Linked DNA regions of Homo sapiens. The protein of the gene in region 1 purifies or fractionates together with the protein of each later gene. This does not show direct contact. Each region holds a gene or a part of one and is shown on either strand. Other genes may lie near its edges.

Region 1 (2,659 bases):
AGATGGATCGTGTGCCATTGGAGACCTGGGCCTTGCCTTGGTGCTCCCTGGCCTCACTCAGCCCCCTGCCTGGACCCCTACTCAACCACAAGGCCCAGCTGCCATCATGGAAGTGAGTTCTCTGGATAACTGGTGAGGCCCAGGATGATGTTGGTGCTGCTGATGGCAATGCAGCCATTGTGTGTCAACAGTTGTAGCAATACCTATAGCATTTGGGACATTGCTGAGTCTGTAGTTGGGGGGATATTGCATGGACCATTGCTGCAATGAGGATTGCCACAGAGATGATTCTTGGCCCTTCGTGCCTTGCTCTCCAGGCTGGCACCCAGAGGTACATGGCACCAGAGCTCTTGGACAAGACTCTGGACCTACAGGATTGGGGCATGGCCCTCCGACGAGCTGATATTTACTCTTTGGCTCTGCTCCTGTGGGAGATACTGAGCCGCTGCCCAGATTTGAGGCCTGGTAAGGATGGGTGGTACAGTCCCCTCTCCTGGGCTCCCCCCCGCCCATTCTAGGTTCACCCCAACCTGACCTGGCCTGAGAAAGCTCTGCTCTTCCCTGTCTTGCCCTTTCTACATGGTAGGCACCCCTAGGACTAACTGATACCCAGCCCCTCTACCTTCCTCCAGACAGCAGTCCACCACCCTTCCAACTGGCCTATGAGGCAGAACTGGGCAATACCCCTACCTCTGATGAGCTATGGGCCTTGGCAGTGCAGGAGAGGAGGCGTCCCTACATCCCATCCACCTGGCGCTGCTTTGCCACAGTAAGAGGCCTAGGCTGTTGGTCTGGGAACCTGGAGAGTGGGGGCTGGGCATGGGCTTCAAGGACGTCTCTGCCAGAGTGTCTGTCTACTCCTATCTCCACTTATCTCCCATCACTCCTTGGTTCATGCTCAGCTGGAACTGGGCAAGCCTCCTCTCCCCGTCAGTTCATCCTCTTCCACCCTAAGTCTCACACAGTCGATTCCATCTACCTGAGACACACACCTTCCTCCTGCTCAACCTTGCCCAGCCTGTCTCTCCTCTCTGCCATCAGTTAGCCCTGTTCCTCAGTCCCCTTCTCCAGGAAGCCCTCCTTGGCTTTGCTCTTGCCCTGAGCTCTGCCCCATCTGCTCTCCTAATACAGTAAAGCCCAAAAATCAATTCAATAAGTCCCCATTCTGTCATACATTGATGATGTTTCTGCTGTGACCCAATAAAAGGCAGTTCTAGGTATAAAAGGTGAAAGCAGTGGCGTCACAGTGAAAGTTCAGGGCTTTGCACAAATACTTTTTTAACAAAATGTCCCTTCTGTACCTGATCTGAAATTTCCACGGCACAAGTCTTAGGTTGGCTGACAGAAACTGGGCATTACTTGCAGAAGACTCTGGCTCTCTGAGAGGAAAGAGAGTAATTTCCCATTAGCATATTAAGCTGTCAACCTACATTAGCTCCTCAGAGGAAACAGTGGGCTATACAGAAGGCCCCCAGAGAGCCTGTTTCATAGGGAGCAAGACTCAGAGGGCTGGAATTCAGCAAGAGGGAGAGGAGGGAGGCTCCAGGAAAGATCAGAAGTGGATGTTGAAAGCAGGAGAGTGATGGACACTGAAGATGGCTTTTAACCCTGGGGCCCACTCAAGATCCTAGGGTCAACCCTTCCTCCCTGTCATTCCCCCCAGGACCCTGATGGGCTGAGGGAGCTCCTAGAAGACTGTTGGGATGCAGACCCAGAAGCACGGCTGACAGCTGAGTGTGTACAGCAGCGCCTGGCTGCCTTGGCCCATCCTCAAGAGAGCCACCCCTTTCCAGAGAGCTGTCCACGTGGCTGCCCACCTCTCTGCCCAGAAGACTGTACTTCAATTCCTGCCCCTACCATCCTCCCCTGTAGGCCTCAGCGGAGTGCCTGCCACTTCAGCGTTCAGCAAGGCCCTTGTTCCAGGAATCCTCAGCCTGCCTGTACCCTTTCTCCTGTGTAAATATGCAGTTTATGTGTCATCAATGTACATGCCAACATAAATATGGCGATTGTATAGCTGTCTTGTCTGCCTCATCACTGCATTTCCCACCTGCCGAATCCTTGGATTCTTCTGCGGGCATCCAGTCCACATCAGTTCTGACCAGTGACTTGGGGTAGGTGTGCACAGGAAAGAGAATAAAGTCAGCTTTCCTGATGCATATCCTTGGTCCTTCCTCTATTCCTGTAATCCAGGGACCCTCTTGTCTCTCTTCTTTTCCACTAACATTTATTTTTATTTATTTATCTGGTTTCTTTTTTTGGAGACAGAGTCTCTGTCCAGTCTGGAGTGCAATGACACGATCACGGCTCACTGCAGCCTTGTCCTCCCTGGGCTCTTGTGATCCTCCTGCCTCAGCCTCCTGAGTAGGAGGGACCACAGGCATGGACCACGATACCCAGCTATTTTTTTTTTTTTTGAGACAGAGTCTCACTCTGTCACCCAGGCTGGAGTGCAGTGGCACAGTCTCGGCTCGGTGCAAGCTCCGCCTCCCGGGTTCACGCCATTCTCCTGCCTCAGCCTCCCGAGCAGCTGGGACTACAGGCGCCCACCACCACACCCGGCTAATTTTTTTTATTTTTAGTAGAGACGGGGTTTCACCCTGTTAGCCAGGATGGTCTCCATCTCCTGACCTTGTGATCTGCCCACCTCGGCCTCCCA
Region 2 (3,500 bases), on another chromosome or scaffold:
ACATCCTTCACCTGTGCACCTAGGGATTGGGGGATGAATATGTCCTTCCTAGGCCCACATCTGGGCTAGGTGCTGGTGGCTTAGGTCCCCGAGGGTGAGGGGAACCCGATCTTGTAGGGAGGTGAAGGCCAAGGCATTAGGTGCTAGTCTCTAGAGGGGGCCAGGGCTGGGTGGGAGGACCTGAGTGACTGGGTCTATGGAGGGAAGGAGGTGGATGTCAGGGTTCAGGAAGAGGCTGACTCAGGCTGCAGAGCCTCTGCCTCATCCTTGAGGGCAACAGGAGCTGGTGTGGGGTGGCTGGATGCCTGGCCACCCCTAGACCTGTTTACTGAGCACCTCCTGTGGGCTGGGCACTGTTGGAAGCACTTTACGTAGTTGGACCCATTTAATCATCTCAGCAAGCCCATGAGGAGCATCAGCATCCCCATTTTATAGATGAGGAAAGTGAGGCCCCGAGAGATCACGTGGCTCGCCTGAGCTCCCCAGCCAGGAAGTGGCAGCCGCAGGATTCGGACCCAGGTAGCCTGGCCCCACAGGTATGCACTTGATAACTGGACTCTACACCCTTGATGGAGGCTGGGAGACGATTTCCCAGTTCTGGAAGAAAATGGGGCTGCGAAGTCAGGAGCCTGGGTCCCTGAGGAGGATAAGGGCTGGGGCCCTAGGTTCTAGAGAGAGCAAGGACTTAGGGGCTGGATTCCTAGGTCTGATTTTTTATTTTATTTTTTAAGAGACAGGGTCTCACTCTGCCACCCAGGCTGGAGTGCAGCAGTATGATCATAGCTCACTGTACCCTCAAACTCTTGGGCTCAAGTGATCCTCCCACCTTGGCCTCCCAAAATATTGGGATTACAGGTGAGTATCTTGTTCTTGAAGAGAGAATGGGGCTCTGGGGGCCCCAGACACTCAAGTTTCTCAGGAGCTGTCCCTGAGAGCCTGTGTTGAACCCATTTAATCATGGCTTCCTGGGGCCAGAGGATGACCAGTTTGGGATAGGGATCATGTCCCCAAGGCAGCTGTACTCACCATGACTCCAGTGCACAGGCAGACGATCTTGCCCCACATGGTGCCCGGCACCACGTCACCATAGCCGATGGTCAGGAATGTGATGGGGATCAGCCAAAGTGTGTCTGAAAGGTGCCCAGTGGCATTAACAGCCTGCCTATGGGGAAGGGTAGGTTAGTTCTAAAACCCCACCATAGAGGTTTCCATGATATTCACTCCCCTTCCCTCTATACCCTCCCATCCCCTTCCCTCTGGTTCCCTCCCTTCCCCTCCCAGTATACACCCATAGTCCTAAGAATCACCTGGACAAAAAGCCATTAAGTTCTGAGCTTTGGAAAGCCTGCATGGCCTCCTCTCTGCTGTGTGACCTGGGCAAGTTGCTTAGCCACTCTGGGATTTGAGACTGGGTCTGGCCAATCCCAATGCCGGTATGGTCTCAGCTAGGCTACCCGGGCTGCTGTAGCATTCAGAGCGTGTGGTTGAGGGTGGAGAGTCGATAGGGGGCCAAAACCCAGTCAGACCCTGACTGGTGGCTACATCCACCCAGAGGAAGGGGTATATTTTTCTAATTTCCACAAAGATGCTGTGTGGTCCAGAAGTGGCCCTATCAGGACCAAAAAGGACTCTAAAAAGGCTTGGTGGGACTCGGCCTTCCTTTCCTCTCACTTCACAGAGGAGACATTTAAGTCCAGCCATGGAAGGGGTTGAAACATTGAGATTTGTCTAACTTTGTCCACAGGCCCCTTGCCGCAAGACCAGCAGGGAAAGCTTCATTCATGAGGGCCCCTGACACCCCAGACCCACCGGGTTGGAGTTTCTAGGAGCGAAGATGGAATCTGTACTGTTCACAAACCCCACCCCCTCATTCCGAAGTACATTCTAGTTTCAGGACTTCTGCCTTGGAATGTGGAACTTTGACTTCCTCCCCATTCTCCCATCATTCAATTGAGAAACATGGTGGGGGGATCATTCATTAATCCTGATTCTGACCAATTTCCCAATTGTGAAAACTAAGATCCTGGAAGGTGAAGGAGTTTAAACTCATGACAGAGGGCGGGCATGGTAATCCCAGCACTTTGGGAGGCTTAGGCAGGAGGATCACTTGAAATCAAGAGTTCAAAACCAGCCTGGGCAACACGGTAACGTGGTCTCTACTAAAAATACAAAAACTAGTCAGGCATGGTGGTGCACATCCGTAATCCCAGCCACTAGGGAGGCTGAGGCATGAGAATTGCTTGAAGCCGGGAGGCAGAGGTTGCAGGGAGCAGAGATTGTGCCACTGCACGCTAGCCTGGATAATTGAGACTCCAGATCAAAAAACAAGAACTGCCAGGGAGACTACAGATGGTGGAACGTGACATGCATTTTTCAGATGAGGAAACTGAGGCTCAGAGAGGAGAGATCTAAAGCCAGATCTTCTCATTCTCCTCCTGCCCTGAAGGATCTTTGCCACATACACTAGACCAGAGGTTCTCAACCTTGGTTGGGCCATAGAATCACCTGGAAGGCTTGCTAAAGTGGATTGCTGGCCCTACCCTCCAGGATTCAGTAGGTCTGGAAGGGACCTGAGAGTTTTCATTTGCAAGTTCCCAGGTGATGCTGCTGGTCTTGAAATCACACTTTGAGGACCACTGGCTGAGATCACTCCCAACCTCGTTTTTCTCTGAAAGGGATAGAAATTGAGGCGCGGCATCGGGTTACACAGTATCTAGCTGGCAACCAGGATCTAGTTCCAATTCCCTGCTTGGAATTATTTTCCAGAGCAGTTCCAAATCATCCCCTTCCTAGGATCACAAAAAGCACCTACCTACAGTGCATTCCGTGCTAATTGGGAAAATATGTCTCCTTCCTCCAAGGCAGAGGCAACCCTTTAGGCAGGTCCCAGAGATAGGTTCGGAGACCGAACAGATGGCCTGTAAACCTGAGGCAGAGGTCAGGCAGCCGGAAGGGAGGGGCTTTCTAGGGTCTGTGTGTGCGTTTGGGGAGACTGAAGGCTGCAGGTGGAGGATTGGCTGGGGGCTTGTCTGTTGGTTCCTCTCACCCCAGTTGATGGGAGTGTGGGCAAATTTCAGCCAGCAAGAGGAGAAGGGGTCAAAGTGTGAACTTTCTCCACTGCTTGGTCCTAGGGGGCCTCAACCTGCACCGCGGCACAGGACGGCCGCCGTGGCTGTCCGGGGTTCCCCCCTGCGCATTTATGCCTCCATCACCCTCACCTCTCGGCCACGGACAGCACCCAGGCGGTGGTCAGCCAGAGGCCAAGCGTGAGGCCGAGCAGCAGGCGGCCAGGGTGCGTGTTCATGTAAAGCTTGGCCACGAACCAGTGGCGGAAGCGGACTTGATTGAGAGCGCCGATGCTGCGGTAGGAAGCGTTGAGCAGGACGCCGCTGCGCAGGAGCACGGCGCGGGGCACCAGGTAGAGACGCAGCAGCATGGCCAGGGACAGCAGCGCTTCCCCTTGGCCCAGGAATCCCGGCCAGGGCTGCGGGGAGGTCAGC

What was found.
Region 2: the proteins of AMHR2 (region 1) and KCNN4 purify together in Homo sapiens (affinity purification with mass spectrometry; one large-scale study listed by BioGRID and IntAct). This does not show direct contact.

What each region holds. Positions count from the first base shown.
Region 1 is NC_000012.12:53,429,514-53,432,172, forward strand, and holds the end of AMHR2 (anti-Muellerian hormone type-2 receptor isoform 1 precursor), read left to right. Parts: coding exon 1-112; coding exon of another isoform or gene 113-132; intron 133-317; coding exon 318-465; intron 466-632; coding exon 633-769; intron 770-1,663; coding exon 1,664-1,960; 3' UTR 1,961-2,159; downstream 2,160-2,659. UniProt on the Homo sapiens protein: On ligand binding, forms a receptor complex consisting of two type II and two type I transmembrane serine/threonine kinases.
Region 2 is NC_000019.10:43,770,974-43,774,473, forward strand, and holds part of KCNN4 (intermediate conductance calcium-activated potassium channel protein 4), read right to left. Parts: coding exon 3,219-3,500; intron 2,928-3,218; exon of another isoform or gene 2,927-2,927; coding exon of another isoform or gene 2,830-2,926; exon of another isoform or gene 2,824-2,829; coding exon of another isoform or gene 2,813-2,823; intron 1,163-2,812; coding exon 1,027-1,162; intron 1-1,026. UniProt on the Homo sapiens protein: Intermediate conductance calcium-activated potassium channel that mediates the voltage-independent transmembrane transfer of potassium across the cell membrane through a constitutive interaction with calmodulin which binds the intracellular calcium allowing its opening.